2 linked regions of the Homo sapiens genome follow. The protein of the gene in region 1 purifies or fractionates together with the protein of each later gene. This does not show direct contact. Each region holds a gene or a part of one and is shown in the gene's direction. Other genes may lie near its edges.

Region 1 (3,749 bases):
GCTTGTGTATAGCATGCTAAAATAAATTTTTGTGTGTGTGTGCAGAAATTAAGGGTCCAATTGAGATTGGGTGATGTTAGTAACATAATAACAAGTTGTCTGGCCTGACACAGCATCACATCACACACACAGAAATTAGTATATCCATGTATGTCAAATACAGGTTAAAATATCAGGGCATTTATATAAAGAGTTGTAGTCTTCTGATAAAAGTAGACTGGATCCCCTGGGGTATTTGGGGAGAAAGTAACTACTTTGGCTCTACCCCTAGAAATGTCCAGTTTTGAGTGACTGTAGTATGGATGGGTTTTCTTGTTTTGTTGATTATTTGAGGCTTTTAAAACAAGTAGTTCATGAAAGAAGCTGTTGGACTCAACATAGAGTAGAGTAACTATCTTTTTAGTCTGGATTTCTGCCCTGCTTAGATTTTAAAAGTATAAGCATGGATTGCCAATTCCACTTGATGTAAACAAAACTTTTTTTTATACATAATATATATATATATATATAAAATAACTTATTGTATCAGTCCAGGTTCAGAAACTTGTGGTAGGCCAGTTCCAGATAGTTTCATTTCACCTGTAAACTGTATCACTTTGACTGATATTGTAATTTTCAAATGTATAATATGTTTACAGATGTGCCCTGCATTTAGTCTGCCTTGTTCCTATTTTGATTTTTGTTGAGTCTCCTGCCTGCTTGCCAAAAGCTAGGATGCTTCAGGCCCATGTACAATTGAAAGCAGAGGCATCCTTGAGCTTTAAAGCATTGAACAAACTGGAAAATGCAACATACCACATAACTGAAGTGAAAAAAGTCTGTGTTTTTGTGTTTTTTTAAATAAAAATTTTCAAAAAGTTAAAAAAAAAGACATATAAGGTTGATTAAAGGGAAAAAAGGCTCCAGTTTGTTTTACAGGTTTTAAAGTTCTGCTGTGTGTTCAATTGCCTTGTGTAACCACTTGTCGCCTTAGGGCCAGATTCCCCTCTCTAGTCCCCTTTTTTAAATGTCCATTTTGCTTGCCTGGAATTTTAAAGTTCTTCCGTCTCACAACTCACAAGAAACTTTCTGGGTTTGTGACATACAGAGGTTGAATTGAGTATATATTTGAAAAGGAAAAAACAAAAAACAAACCCAGACCCCACCTGAATTGGGCTTTTTAACTTAGAAGCAACACTTGATTAAACATCTTTAGAAAGCTATTGCTTTTCTAATTTCCTTCCATATCCCTCAGGCCTCAGTGTTCAGAGAAGCCAAAAAGAATGTATCACTTCTCTGTCTGTCCAAAGGTTTTTGAGAGTCTCACTTCTAAATGAAACAATGCAACATTTCACTTTGATTTCTCCACTGAAATTTCCTTGATTATATGGTTAGAGGTATGTAGTTAGGAATGTCTGTTAACTTTCTGAGAACCCTAGTGCCCCATCATATTAACTGTCAGTATTTTGGGGGCATTAGGTTAATAGACTTAATTGCCTAGGTACAAGCAGGACTTTGGGACAAATCTCTTTGTGCTGTTTGGTAACACTTAACTCTATTTGTTGCAATCTTTCTCCTTAGGTCCTCACACAATTCCTTACAGAGCACTTATTAAAAAAAAATCTTAAGAGTTGATCTGTTTTCTGATTATTTTGTGTAAGCTTCTAAACAAACTTCAGCTGTGATTAATTTAGCACATTTAAATAACGTGTTATTGTTTGGTATAAAGAATTTTCCTTCAACTCAGAGTATTAGTACTGTAGCATAAACCAAATACAGTCTAGAGGGGATTTTTAACATCCCTCCATTATAAAGACTGAAAAAGGGGTGTGTGTGTGTGTGTGTGTTTATGTATGTATGTATGTGTGTGTGAGGAAAAGATGGAGATATTAAAAATTAGTAAATGAATGTGTATAAGACATTAGTATTCAGAGAATGAACTTGTATTTATTTTGTGCCATTTGTTTTCATTACACAGAAAAAAGTCAGGTGGTTTAAATCCTTAAAAGGGTAGTATTGAAAAATGGCACTAAGAATGAAATTATGACCTATTTTTTTAATAGCTATGAAGATACTAATTATGGGTGAAGATTTCTTTTTAAATCTGTTTTGATTATTGTAGGCTTCTGTGTCACATACCACTCTTGTAGGTGTCCTCAATAATCCCCTTTTCCCACAAAATACACAGGGTGTATTATCTTTCTCTTTATTCACCCCCACTTTGCTGAACTGAAGTTAATTACATAGCCTTTCTTCTAACCTCCTTAGTAATGAACCTTCACATAAAGTGTATTTACAGCGTCTGTGGTAGCCAGCCCTTCCTCCTCTACTTTCTAGGAGGGGATAGCCAATAACTAGGAATTTAATGACAGATTTTTTTTTCTTTGAAATAAATGGCCAGAGTTTCTCCATTTTAGAATTTTGTTGTCCTCCTTAATCATCTGCTTACCTAGTCATTACTCAATCTGCAGAAACTTCATAAAGGAAAAGTGCTGCATTGTTTTTACAAATAACAGTTTGTAGGGAAAATATGACAAACCTCAACTATGGGAGTTGTCCACAATACAAAATTTTGAAAAAACATTACATAGTGATAATATCATACTTGGTTGTTAGGCTTGTTGCTTCCCCACATCAGAGGCATCTAATGATTTATCTTTTGTAATTGCTGTGAACTTTTTTAAATAAGCCATTTAGTGTGAAATTGTCATGTATCAAATGGCTATTGGAAATGGACTTTACTCAATTTTAATTCCACTGTAAATAAGGACGGAGTCATTCCTACAAGGCTCTCTTCAGAGAAATAGATTAAAAGTCCAATTTCCAGGTATTATTAGTATAGTTATGCCGCTGGGCCACATCCTCAACAACAGCTGATCCCTCTTGTATAAATATGTTAACTGTGCAGAACAGTTATGTTATGGGACAAATATAATGGTCATTATGGTCAGATTGGTTGATGCCACACCAGTCAAGGTAGAGTCTGATAGGGCAGTATCTTAATAACCCTACCCATGACTTAACTGTTGGATTTGAAAGGAAAACGTAGGATTTGCTCTTGTCCCCTTACCCGCCACAAAATTTTGATAATTTGTTTAAAAGGGAGAGGCAGAGGAAAAGACTAGAAGCATAAATAGCTGCTTTAGGTTTGCCAGAGGCACATAGCTTAACATTAGTTCTTAATATCGATGTTATTTTTACTAATGTAATTAATCAACAGAGCACCAAGATTCTTTCATGGTGAAAAGGGTGGGCTTCTGTTTTGGTATCTTAAAATGTTTCTTTTAAAATATACATCACCTGTGTGAGAACCAGGACCACCTGGGAGAGTGATGAATCATTGGCTCCACTCAAAAGCATTGCTTTACTGAGTTTTAAATTTCACACTGTTTTGCCGCTCAAGAAAGGTCTTAAAGTAGTTAAAGGATGCCAGCAATAGTGCGAATAGAATTTTCGGTTGTCTGCATAATAAAAACACCCATTGCAGCATGATTGGTATGTTGCTCTTGCATTATTGGGAATGGTAAATCAGTTATGGGCTAGAAACTATGGAATGGCCGTCCTCATATGTGATGGGATTGCTGATTCAGACTTCCCTATTTTCCATACAATTTTGTTATGTGCAGAGTTCTAAAGCCATTTTATAATACTGCAGTATCCCCCCCCCCCCCACCTTTTTTTTTTTGAGACGGACTGTCTGTTGCCCAGGCTGGAGTACAGTGGCGCAATCTTGGCTCACTGCAACCTCCACCTCCCTGGTTCAAGCAATT
Region 2 (3,749 bases), on another chromosome or scaffold:
GAGTTGCAGAGTAGGAGGAGAATGAAATAGGCTCATTGAAGGTGTCAATTGGGTGATGTCAGAGTATGCCTTTAGTTGTTTCTGTAGGCCTGTGCTGAATAGTGCTGCAGGGAAAAAAGACAAATTTGAGGGCTGGGTACTTTAATGTTAAAATATTTAAGTTTAAATTTTTGTGAGACTTTTGCTAAGTCCTGTGGCTGATGTTGAGAAAACAATGCACTTGGTTCCAAGCATGTTGAGGATGTAGTGTTGTGAAAAGTTTGGGAAGGGTAAGAGAAATCCAGTTCTATTTAAGAGAAATCCAGTTCTATTTTTGCCTTCACTTTTCTTGAAACTGACCCATGGGTGTGGGGAATGGGGTGTTTGTAGTTTGAACTAGCCGTGGATGCTGTGCACCGGAAAGCATCTGAGCCAGCAGGTGGCCCTCGTCGGGAGGACATTGTGGACACCATGGTGTTTAAGCCAAGTGATGTCATGCTTGTTCACTTCCGAAATGTTGACTTCAACTATGCTACTAAAGGTATTGTCCTAGGCTGTTACCTCAGACCTGCTCTGTGTGCATAGAGGACAGAGGGTAGTTTGTGTGCAGGTGGAACATGGTGATGTGTTTGGTTTGTTTTTTTGTTTTTGTTTGTTTGTTTTGCTTTAATGCCTTTTTTTTCCTGAGCGAAGTGGGTGGATTTTTCTTCTTAAAAATATGTCTTGATGTCTAATATATAATGCGATGAATTCCTGTCTGTGTTGTGGTTCTTCATATTTTCTTTGCTTGGTTTTTAACTTCTTTTTTCTTTGGAATCATAGTACTGATAGACTTTTTATACTCTTCTTCTCTTGCCTCCCCACCCCCTGGCCATCCTAACACACGGGCACACGTACTCTGGACTTCTTAAACTTTGTTCCTGAACTACTTACGGAGAGTGGGGTTGGGGGATATTGGAAAGAAGTCTGTGAAATATAGCCTGACTCCTGATCTTCACCTCTGCCCCCACAGACAAGTTCACCGATTCAGCCATTGCCATGAACTCGAAAGTGAATGGGGAACACAAAGAGAAGGTGCTTCAGCGCTGGGAGGGGGGTGACAGCAACAGCGACGACTATGACCTCGAGTCTGACATGGTATAGCCTCCTTCCCTGAGAACTTGGGAGCTGGACAGACAGAATGGGTTGTTGACAGTGAGGTTCATTTGAGTGGGGAGGGAAATATTTACTGTTGCCCATTGATGGTAGTCAGATAACAAATAGAAAGGTATAGAAAATAGCAAAGTAAAAATATCTATTCTTAGCTGGGTGCAGTGGCTCATGTTTGTAATCCCAGCACTTTGGGAGGCCAAGGCCGGTGGGTCACTTGAGGCAAGGATTTCGAGACCAGTCTGGGCAACATGGTGAAACCCTGTCTCAACAAGATATATAAAAGCTATCAAGGTTTGGTGGCATGTACCTGTAGTCCCAGCTACTTGGGAGGCTGAAGTGGAAGGATCACTTGAGCCCAGGGAGGTCGAGGCTACAGTGAGCTGTGATCATACCACTGCACTCCAGCCTGGGTGGACCGTGTCACACGCAACAAAACCAAAACATCAACTTACTCTCTTACTATCTATAATTAACCACTCCTAGCATTTGCATCACGTTATTTTTCAACATAACAAAAAGTATAGATTAATGTGTAGGCCCATTTCTCTTCCCAAAATCAGCTACTCTGAGGCATTTAAAATCTCATGAGGCTGAGCGCAGTGGCTCATGCCTGTAGTCCCAGCTACTTGGGAGGCCAAGGCAGGAGCTCCGATCACTTGAGCCCAGGAGTTTGAGGCTGCTGTAAGCTGAGATTGTGCCACTGGACTCCAGTCTGAGCGACAGTGAGGATGTCTCAAAAAAATAAATAAAAACCGCTCATGAATAGAGCTGAGCGTGGTGGTCCCACACCTGTAGTCCCAGCTACTCAGGAGGCTGAGGTAGGAGAATCATTTGAAGCTTTGGTGCACTATGACTCAACTTGTGAATGGCCACTGTGCTCCAGCCTGGGCATCATAGCGAGACTATCTGTTGAGAAACAAATGTCTTGTGAATGAATATATTATTGTTTTGTTATGTTTAGTTTGTACAAGAATTTGCTTTTCTTGCCTTTTCGAACTTCTCATGGTTGTACGTAGATCTAGTTCTTTGCTTCTATTGTTGTGTGCTGTTTTCAAATATACACACACACGTGTACACAGCAAATTGTATTTGTCCTTTTCCTTAATCATCTGCATTTGGTTGCCATTATTTTGCTACTAAAAATAGTACCTTGCTGGACTTTTAGAACATATATTCCCCACGCACATGTGCCAGAATTTTTCTGGGATGTCTTGGAAATAGAATTGTTAGGTCTTATGACTTTTCAGGTTTACTAGTTATTGATAATTTCTGCTGCAGTTGTTAGTAATCATTAACAGTTGCAGGCCGGGCGCGGTGGCTCACACCAGTAATCCCAGCACTTTGGGAGGCCAAGGCGGGCAGATCACCTGAGGTTGGGAGTTTGGAACTAGCCTGACCAACGTGGAGAAGCCCCATCTCTACTAAAAATACAAAATTAGCTGGGCGTGGTGGCACATGCCCGTAATCCCAGCTACTCGTGAGGTTGAGGCAGGAGAATCGCTTGAACCCAAGGAGACGGAGGTTGCGGTGAGCCAAGATCGCACCATTGCACTCCAGCCTGGGCAACAAGAGTGAAACTCTTTGTCTCCAAAAAAAAAAAAAAAATTGCAGTTATTAATTACAATTATTAGTTGATTACTTTTGCCAGCCACGTTCCAATTTTTTTTCCACTCTTGTTTTGTCGTTTATTTTTGAGACGAGCTTGCTCTGTTGCCCGGGTTTTTGTTGTAGTTGTTTGTTTTTGTTTTTGTTTTTGTTTTTTTTGGAGACAGGGTCTCACTCTGTCACTCAGGCTGGAGGCTGGAGTGCAGTGGCTCGATCTCAGCTCACTGCAACCTCTGCCTCCCAGGTTCAAGCGATTCTTCTGCCTCAGCCAGGACTGCAGGCATGCGCCACCACGGATGGCTAATTTTTTATTTTTAGTAGAGACGGGGTTTCACCATGTTGGTCAGGTTGATCTCCTGACCTCAGGTGATCCACCCACCTCCCAAAGTGCTGGGATTACAGGCATGAGCCACCACGCCCAGCTAGTCGCCCAGGCCAGAGCGCAGTGGTGCCATAATAATTCACTGCAGCCTCAAACTCCTGGGCTCAAGTGATCCTCTCTCCTCAATCTCCTGAGTAGCGAGTAGCTAGGACCCCAGGCATGCACCACCACACCCGGCTGTTTCATTATTTTTTTCTAGAGATGAGCTCTTGCTGTGTTGCCCAGTCTGGCCTTAAACTCCTGGCCTCAGGAGAGCCTCCTGCCTCAGCTTCCCAAAGTACTGGGATTACAGGTTTCAGCCACTGTGCCCAGCCAATTTGTTCACATCTTGGAGTTTTTAACCTGATGGAAGGGAAGTGACTTGTCGTTGCTTTTCCTGCTGGGTTTTAAAACCACCTTCCTCCCTCCCCAGTCCAATGGATGGGACCCCAATGAAATGTTCAAGTTCAATGAGGAGAACTACGGTGTGAAGACTACCTATGATAGCAGTCTTTCTTCTTATACGTGAGTATCTTGGTGCTCTCCAGGTGATGTGTTGGTGATATGGGGTCACTAAGTGAAGACAGGTTTCCAGGTAGAACATAGTTTTTGCTCATTTTTCTCTGGGTGTCCAGGGTCGCCATCCCTACTC

Evidence for each region.
Region 2: the proteins of NUFIP2 (region 1) and ATXN2L purify together in Homo sapiens (affinity purification with mass spectrometry; 5 studies listed by BioGRID and IntAct, with this or other methods). This does not show direct contact.

Annotation. Positions count from the first base shown.
Region 1 is NC_000017.11:29,259,491-29,263,239, reverse strand, and holds part of NUFIP2 (FMR1-interacting protein NUFIP2), read left to right. Parts: 3' UTR 1-3,749. UniProt on the Homo sapiens protein: Binds RNA.
Region 2 is NC_000016.10:28,825,871-28,829,619, forward strand, and holds part of ATXN2L (ataxin-2-like protein), read left to right. Parts: intron 1-369; coding exon 370-520; intron 521-991; coding exon 992-1,116; intron 1,117-3,530; coding exon 3,531-3,622; intron 3,623-3,749. UniProt on the Homo sapiens protein: Involved in the regulation of stress granule and P-body formation.